Linked DNA regions of Homo sapiens. The protein of the gene in region 2 purifies or fractionates together with the protein of the main gene of each other region. This does not show direct contact. Each region holds a gene or a part of one and is shown on either strand. Other genes may lie near its edges. The genes, in order: HCLS1 and WIPF1.

Region 1 (3,826 bases), on a different chromosome or scaffold from region 2:
GATTGATTGCTCTGTTGCCCAGGCTGGAGTGCAGTGACATGATCTCAGCTCACTGCAACCTCTGCCTCCTGGGTTCAAGCGATTCTGCTGCTTCAGCCTCCTGAGTAGCTGGGACTCAGGCGCCCACCACCAAGCCCAGCTAATTTTTGTATTTTTGGTAGAGACGGGGTTTCACCATAGTGGCTAGGCTGGTCTTGAGCTCCTGACCTTGTGATCCACCCGCCTTGACCTCCCAAAGTGCTGAGATTACAGGCGTGAGCCACCACACCTGGCCACTTTTTCATTTTATTAATGGCATCTTTTTAAGAGCAAAAGATCTTAATCCTGATGATGTCTAATTTATTGAAAAAAAATTTATGGGGCTAATGCTTTATGTGTCTAAGAAATATTTACCTACCCCAAAGTTGTGAAGACTTTCTTTGATGTTTTGTCCTAAAGGACTGACAGTTTTAGCTTTTACATTTAAGTCTATGACCCATTTCAAGTAGACTTTTCTGTGCAGTGTGAGGTCAAGATTGAGGTTCATTTTTCTCCATGTGATTATTTAGTTGTTCAACAATATTAAAAGAGTATTCTGTTCCCATTGACTTACCTGGCATCTTTGACCACATACATGTGGGTCTATTTCTGGACTCTATTCTGTTCTGTTGATCTATTTTCTACCCTGACAGCATACCATACTGCACTGATTATTGTAGCTTTATAAGTCAAGAAATTATGTAGTCCTCAACTTTGCTCTCCTTAAAAAAAAAAAAAGAAACAAAAGATTTTACTATTCCAGGACTTTACATTTTCACATAAATTTTATAATTCACTAGTCAATTCCTACAAGAATGCCTGTTCAGATTTTGATTGGGATTGCATTGAATCTATAGATCATTTTAGGGAGAACTGACATCTTAATGATATTGAGTTTTCCAATCCATGAACATGGGATATCTCTCCATTTATTTAGATCTTCTTTAATATTTTCAGAAATATTTTTTAGTGTTTAGGTCTTGCACATACTTTGTTAAGTTTATCCTAAAATGTTTCATGTTATTTCATGTATTTATATTTAACTTCCAGTTTCCAAATGTTTATGGCCAGTATGTAAAAATACAATTGATTTTGATATAATGACCTTGTATCCTGTGACCTAGCCAAATGCACAATGCTTTAGTAGCTTTTTTTGTGTGAATTCTTTAGGATTTTCTACATACATGATCAGGTCATCTGTGAATAAAAACCTTATATTCTGAGTCACTCACATTTGTGCTTTTAGTTTTGTAATAAAAAACAAACACAGATTGAGGAATGAGTCATCTTTGAGGTGCTACATTTTGCTTGGTTCACATAAACTGCATTGCTTTATCAATACAAAGTCTTTTAAAACTTAAATTGGATATCTGAGAGTTAATATGTCAAAAGTTTCTTAGGCACAACACAGCATATTGAATTGGAATTTTTTGTTTTCCTCTCTATCTCTTCTAGCTGTCCTCTATCTCCATACATAAAACATTTTTGTGTCCTCAGAGCCTAACAGTACCTCACACTTAAAAGTTGTTTAGTTAATAGTTATAAAATGAAGGAATGATGTGATTAAGACCTGTTTAGGCCAGGCGTGGTGGCTCACGCCTGTAATCCCAGCACTTTGGGAGGCCAAGGCAAGAGGATCACTTGAGGTCAGGAGTTTGAGACCAGCCTGGCCAACATGGTGAAACCCTGTCTCTACTAAAAATACAAAATCTAGCGGGGCATGACATGCATGCCTGTAATCCCAGCTACTCTGGAGGCTGAGGCAAGAGAATCACTTGAACCCGGGAGGCGGAGATTACAGTGAGCTGAGATCATACCACTGCACTCCAGCCTGGGCGACAGAGCAAGATTCTGTCTCAATAATAATAATAATAATAAAGACCTGTTTAGAATGACTTCCACTATAACCTAAAGAAGTCTGTTTTCTTTGGGCCTCAACAATTTCATTCAAATTATATCATTGGTATGATCCCCTGACTAGTTTTTCTGTTATCCTTTAGATGAATATTTCTGAGTATCATTTTCTAATCCCTTTTAAAAACTTGTTTTAACTATAATATAGTTATAACCCATTTAACAATTATTATATTCATTAAAAAATTGCAGATTTTTTCCATTTGAAAGTAAATTTTGGCCCCATTTTCTTGATCTTTCATCTGAATACTTCAGTTGGAAGATATTGGGCAGGCATTTACATGTCCTTGGTACTAGTAGCTTATGACACAGTGTTGGTGTTGAACTGACAACACAAGATCTCTGCTTTCAACGCTGCCAGAGAGTTTAGAGGAGGCATGGGAACAGGGGGTTCTTCCAGCACTTGGCTTAATTTCATCTGGTTCATAGCCAGCTTTCTAAAATTAACTGCGGCTAAAGCTGAGAAGGCTTTTTAAAAAGACCTTTGGTAGAATTATCCACTAAAGGCCACCAGATGGATCTATTCTTCCTTAAAAGAAGACAATTTCTGCTGTGAGACAGCCATTCTACGTATAACCAATGTGTCTGGTTGTCCTGCGCTGGTAAAGTCCCAGCTCACCATCTAACATCACTATCTTAATACCCTAAACCCTCATTGCTTGCTGCAGAAAGTCAAATTTCTTATTTAGGGTTCTCTTGCCCAAATGTTTCCAAGAATCCCCGGATCCTTATATGTGTCCAAATAACAGATCTGATTGTCACGTGGGGCTGAGCTATCACTTCATATCCTCAAGCCAAAGAGGTTGGCCAAGATGGCTTTCTGCCCTCTTAATTGTTGCAGTCACCTTCATGGTAAAGATGGAAGTGGGTGTGAAGTAAGAAAGATAATGCCTTTTTTGGTGGTACTTTCTCTTAGGGATAGAGGTGTCCCTTCAAATCAAGATAATTTGAGGCTTAAAGTGTTATAGCAATAACTGTGAGTGGATTTTCTTAGTTAGTTTTCATTAGTCCTTAGTTTTCTCAGGTATTATCAGCCTGGGGGGAAGGGGCAGAAGATCTTAATTCATGACCAAAAAGCATAAAAAATACCACTAATGTTTACATAAATTTCCCCAGTTCTGTGTTTTTATAAGCATTATATTTAATGACTTCCTAGTACACTAGTGAAAGGTAGTATTTCAATTTATTTAACTATTATCCAACCATTGGTCATATAGATTGTTTCTTAGTTATTGCTATTATATACGATGCTTCAATGAGTATCATTTAGACATTAAGGACATTAAGCTTTGCCATATTTAAAATCATTTCCCTGGTGTAGACTGCTAAAACTAGAATGTGTAGGTCCAATGGTATGTGAATATTTTTCTGCTTTTTGAGACACATCCTCTAATTGATAGAAAGCAGATCCATTCAGAAAAGAAAATAACTTTCCAGTTATCAGAATATAGGTACCATTGTCCTCTAATATTTAAGAACATGAAAAATGGGACTAAAGATCAGAAGGTTATTTTAGTGAGCAAATAACAGACTAGAGGAAATATTATTGGCCTATGGAGAGTTTAAATCAGGCTATGGTATGCAGGCCAGACTGATCTTTTACTTCCAGACCCATCACTAGTATATTTTGGGGGCCCAGGTTATTACTGAAAGTAAACAGGACAGACTTCAAGGCTTCCATTTTTCTGGGAAGATGGGTTTCTTGATCTCCCTAGGATAGATGAGCCTTGGTCATGTGGTTTCTTCCAGCATCCACCAGCTGAGGAACAAAGTATCAGAGGAGCATGATGTTCTCAGGAAGAAAGAGATGGAGTCAGGGCCCAAAGCATCCCATGGCTATGGAGGTCGGTTTGGAGTAGAAAGAGACCGAATGGACAAGGTAAGTTGAAAGGGA
Region 2 (3,826 bases):
TACTCTTTGCAAAGATTATTAATGACAGTCTGCATTCCAAAATATGACTACACTACAGTCTACCTAGTCAATTCCCTTTTGTTGGGCATTTAGGTATCTTCTAATTAAAAATTAGAAAGCTTTTCTGACAGTAGCCATTCTAATGGGTGTAAAGTTGTATCTCACTATAGTTTTATTTGCAGTTTCATAAAAGTTAGTGATGTTGAACACCTTTTCAAGTACTCTGTCGATGTGTTCTTTTAAAAGTTATTCACGGCCCAGTTGCAGTGGCTCACGCCTGTAACCCCAGCACTTTGAGAGGTTGAGGAGGGATGATGGCTTGAGCTCAGGAGTTTGAGACCAGTCTGGGCAACATAGCAAAACCCTGTCTCCACAAAAATTAGCCGGGCATGTTGGTGTGCGCCTGTCCCATAGTCCCAGCTACCTGGGAGGCTGTGGTGGGAGGATCACCTGAACCTGAGAGGTCGAGGCTGCAATGAGCCAAGATTGCGCCACTGCACTCCAGCCTGGGTGACAGAGTGAGACCCTGTCTCAAAAACAAAATAAAAACCAAAACCAAGCTATTCATGGGCTATCAGTCCACTGTAACTAGGCTTAAAACCCATTCACATAAAAAAAATTCATTTACTACACAAACATTTGTTGAGGATTTAACAGGTGTTTGGCATGAGGTCAGGTGCTCAGATGTTGTGAACAGGTCTAACTGGGGCATGTGTCAATCAGGTAGGTCTGCTCTAACCACTGCTCTGAGACTCAGTGGGCTGGAACTGGCAGATTCCTCAAGTAGGCATCTTGATAGGGACCCTACTGGTCCACTTAGGGATTTCTGAGAAAGAACCAAATTTCTGAGCAAGGAAGGGAGTTAGGAGAAAACACTGAAAGAAGCACCTCTTCCTCTCACCATCCCAACCAAATATTTTCTTGGGCAGGCATCTGAGAAAAGACTCATCTGGATGTAAACCAGACACCTATCATGGGGCCTTGACCATCAACTGACCCGCCACAAGTGGTTAGTAGAATGAGGGCTGGCCTTGTCCAAAGCTGTAATTAGAGGGCACTCCAAGTGCATTCGGTACTGCTCAGGGCTGTCTGGGTGCGCTCTCAGGCTGTGGGCTTGGAGGCTGAGGCTGCTGCAGAGCAGAGGAAAACTTGGTACTCGACGGTGCCTTATTTATTTTTGTTAGATGATCCATTATCATTATAAAATATTAAACATGCCTAATGCTGGAAATATTTAAGGCAAATCTACAAAAAAATTTTGGTAGACTGTGGAAATTAATTCACCAATTTAAAAACTACTTTTAGGCGAGGCATGGTAGCTCATGCCTATAATCCAGTGCTTTGGGAGGTTAAGGCAGGGGACTACTTGAGGCCAGAAGCTCAAGACCAGCCTGGGTGACATAGAGATATCCTGTCTCTATAAGAAAATTTTTAAAAAGAAATACTTGAAAATGCCCTTTATGTTTCAGGCTCTGTGCCCCTCAAGGAAGGTGCAATAGTGAGCAGGACACAGTTCTAGTCCTTACATTGCCTACTCAAGTCTTAAAGGAGGATGGGAGAAGATATATGCTTAGCTATTCCATTAAAGATCTAGAGGGTACAGGGAAGATGGTCTATTACCAATTTAAAAATAGAAATAATATTTAGAATAAGAAGCAAATAATAAGTTAGGAAAAATATTTGGAGTCTATATGAACAACTCCTTAAAGTCAATTCATTTATTGGTGCCCAAGAAGGAAGAAGGGCTGTACTCTTATCAAACAGAAGCCCTTCTTCTGGTGCACACACACACACACACACACACACACACACACACACCATTCAAAGATATCTGTCCCATGTGAAAACTTACTTTTCACTAACACTTTTTTTTTTTTTTTGAGATGGAGTTTCGCTCTCGTTGCCCAGGCTCAAGTGCAATGGCGACTTCTGCTCACCGCAACCTCCACCTCCTGAGTTCAAGCAATTCTCCTGCCTCAGCCTCCTGAGTAGCTGGGATTACACGCATGCGCCCCTATGCCCGGCTAATTTTGTATTTTTAGTAGAGACAGGTTTTCTCCATGTTGGTCAGGCTAGTCTCGAACTCCTGACCTCAGGTGATCTGCCCACCTCAGCCTCCCAAAGTGCTGGGATTACAGGCGTGAGCCACCGTGCCTGGCCTTCACTAAAAATTTCAATCATCAACTCTTGTATAATAATTTTATTATAGCTATACTTCTTCATTAGGTATTGTCTATGAATGCAGTCTTCCACAGAAACAAATCTTTTCAGGAATTAAAGTTTTCCTTTTAAGCAGTAGTATTCTGTTTTCTTCTAGCATTTGTCCATGGAAATTTTCCTATATTTTCTAACTCTTTAAATTTTTCTACAGAGGCACAAAGCACAGTTTGACTCAATTAATTTAATTCCATTTAACCCAATAGAAATTCAACCCAACAGAAACATCTGGTGTTGTCCTGCGCTGTGACACACAGCACAGCCATGTTCCTGTCTCCTCCTCTGACCTGGGACTGCCATCTGTCACTTCTCTCCCATGTCAGTGATTTTGCTTCTCACCAGTCTTAACTTTAGCTGTTATTAATCTCCTATAAGGTTTGGAACCAACCAACCAAAAATTACTTTAAACTGTGTTAGGAAAGAATCAGTAGGCTTTGAGTACATGTAAGGTGCTCTGTTAGGGAGTGGGGCCATCGCTAGGGGTGTTGTGACATATTTGACTTGTTTGCTTAAGTTTTCTCTATTTCTGGTTTGGGAATTTGGCTCTGAGGCTAAGGCTGCCACGAACCTCAGCCTCATGGATGACATATGCATATTTCATGCTAATTCTTTCTTCGTTGTATACATTTTTTTTTATTTTTATTTTTTTTGAGATGAAGTCTCGCTCTGTCGCCCAGGCTGGAGTGCAATGGCGCAATCTCAGCTCAGTGCAACCTCTGCATCCCGGGTTCTAGTGATTCTCCTGCCTCAGCCTCCTGAGTAGCTGGGATTACAGGCACACACCACCATGCCCAGCTAATTTTTGTATTTTTATATTTTTAGTAGAGATGGGGTTTCACCATGTTGGTCAGGCTGGTCTCGAACTCCTGACCTCGTGATCCGCCCACCTCAGCCTCCCAAAGTGCTGGGATTACAGGCGTGAGCCACCATGCCCAGCTATTGTGTTTTTTTAAAAGTAAATTTCAGAGGCTTTCCAGCAAAACCCTGGAAAGCCTGCTAGACAAATTCTCAAAGAGCTGTAACACTTCCTATACATTTACTGTTATAAAATTCCAGTTTGTCTATTTTTCCTTTCTTGTTGACATTCTTCTTCAATGGAGGAAAAGCAATTTAGTTCTTTATGGTAGCATTACCTACATTAGCAGAACAACAGAAATAATTTAAATGTCCATGGTAATGGTAAATTACTATATGCTGAAATAAAAACCATGTGATAACATGGGCACTATTTACTAAGCAATGTTATGTAAACCCCGCCAAAAAACTGTACATCGTCATTATAACTACATAAAAAAACAGAATTATATGGATAAAAAATTGGATGAGAATCTGGTAAAATGAAAATATCTATTATGTGGAGAGATTATGGATATATTTACATTTTCATGTAATGCTCTGTAAAGCTATGATTACAATACGTTTAAAAGATCAAGGCAGTTAAAGGGAGTTTTTGTTATAATTAATCAGACATTATGCCAATTTCAAAACTAGAAGGAATAGAAGATGGCTCTACTTGTGCTGTCTCAGGAAGATGAAAACAGAGGAAGACGTCCAAAGAAGTAAAATAATAAAATTTAATACTAGCAAACCACGGTATTTTGAGCTTGTA

Evidence for each region.
Region 1: the proteins of WIPF1 (region 2) and HCLS1 purify together in Homo sapiens (pull-down; one study listed by IntAct). This does not show direct contact.

Annotation. Positions count from the first base shown.
Region 1 is NC_000003.12:121,647,304-121,651,129, reverse strand, and holds part of HCLS1 (hematopoietic lineage cell-specific protein), read left to right. Parts: intron 1-3,681; coding exon 3,682-3,811; intron 3,812-3,826. UniProt on the Homo sapiens protein: Substrate of the antigen receptor-coupled tyrosine kinase. Plays a role in antigen receptor signaling for both clonal expansion and deletion in lymphoid cells. May also be involved in the regulation of gene expression.
Region 2 is NC_000002.12:174,563,035-174,566,860, forward strand, and holds part of WIPF1 (WAS/WASL-interacting protein family member 1), read right to left. Parts: intron 1-3,826. UniProt on the Homo sapiens protein: Plays a role in the reorganization of the actin cytoskeleton. Contributes with NCK1 and GRB2 in the recruitment and activation of WASL.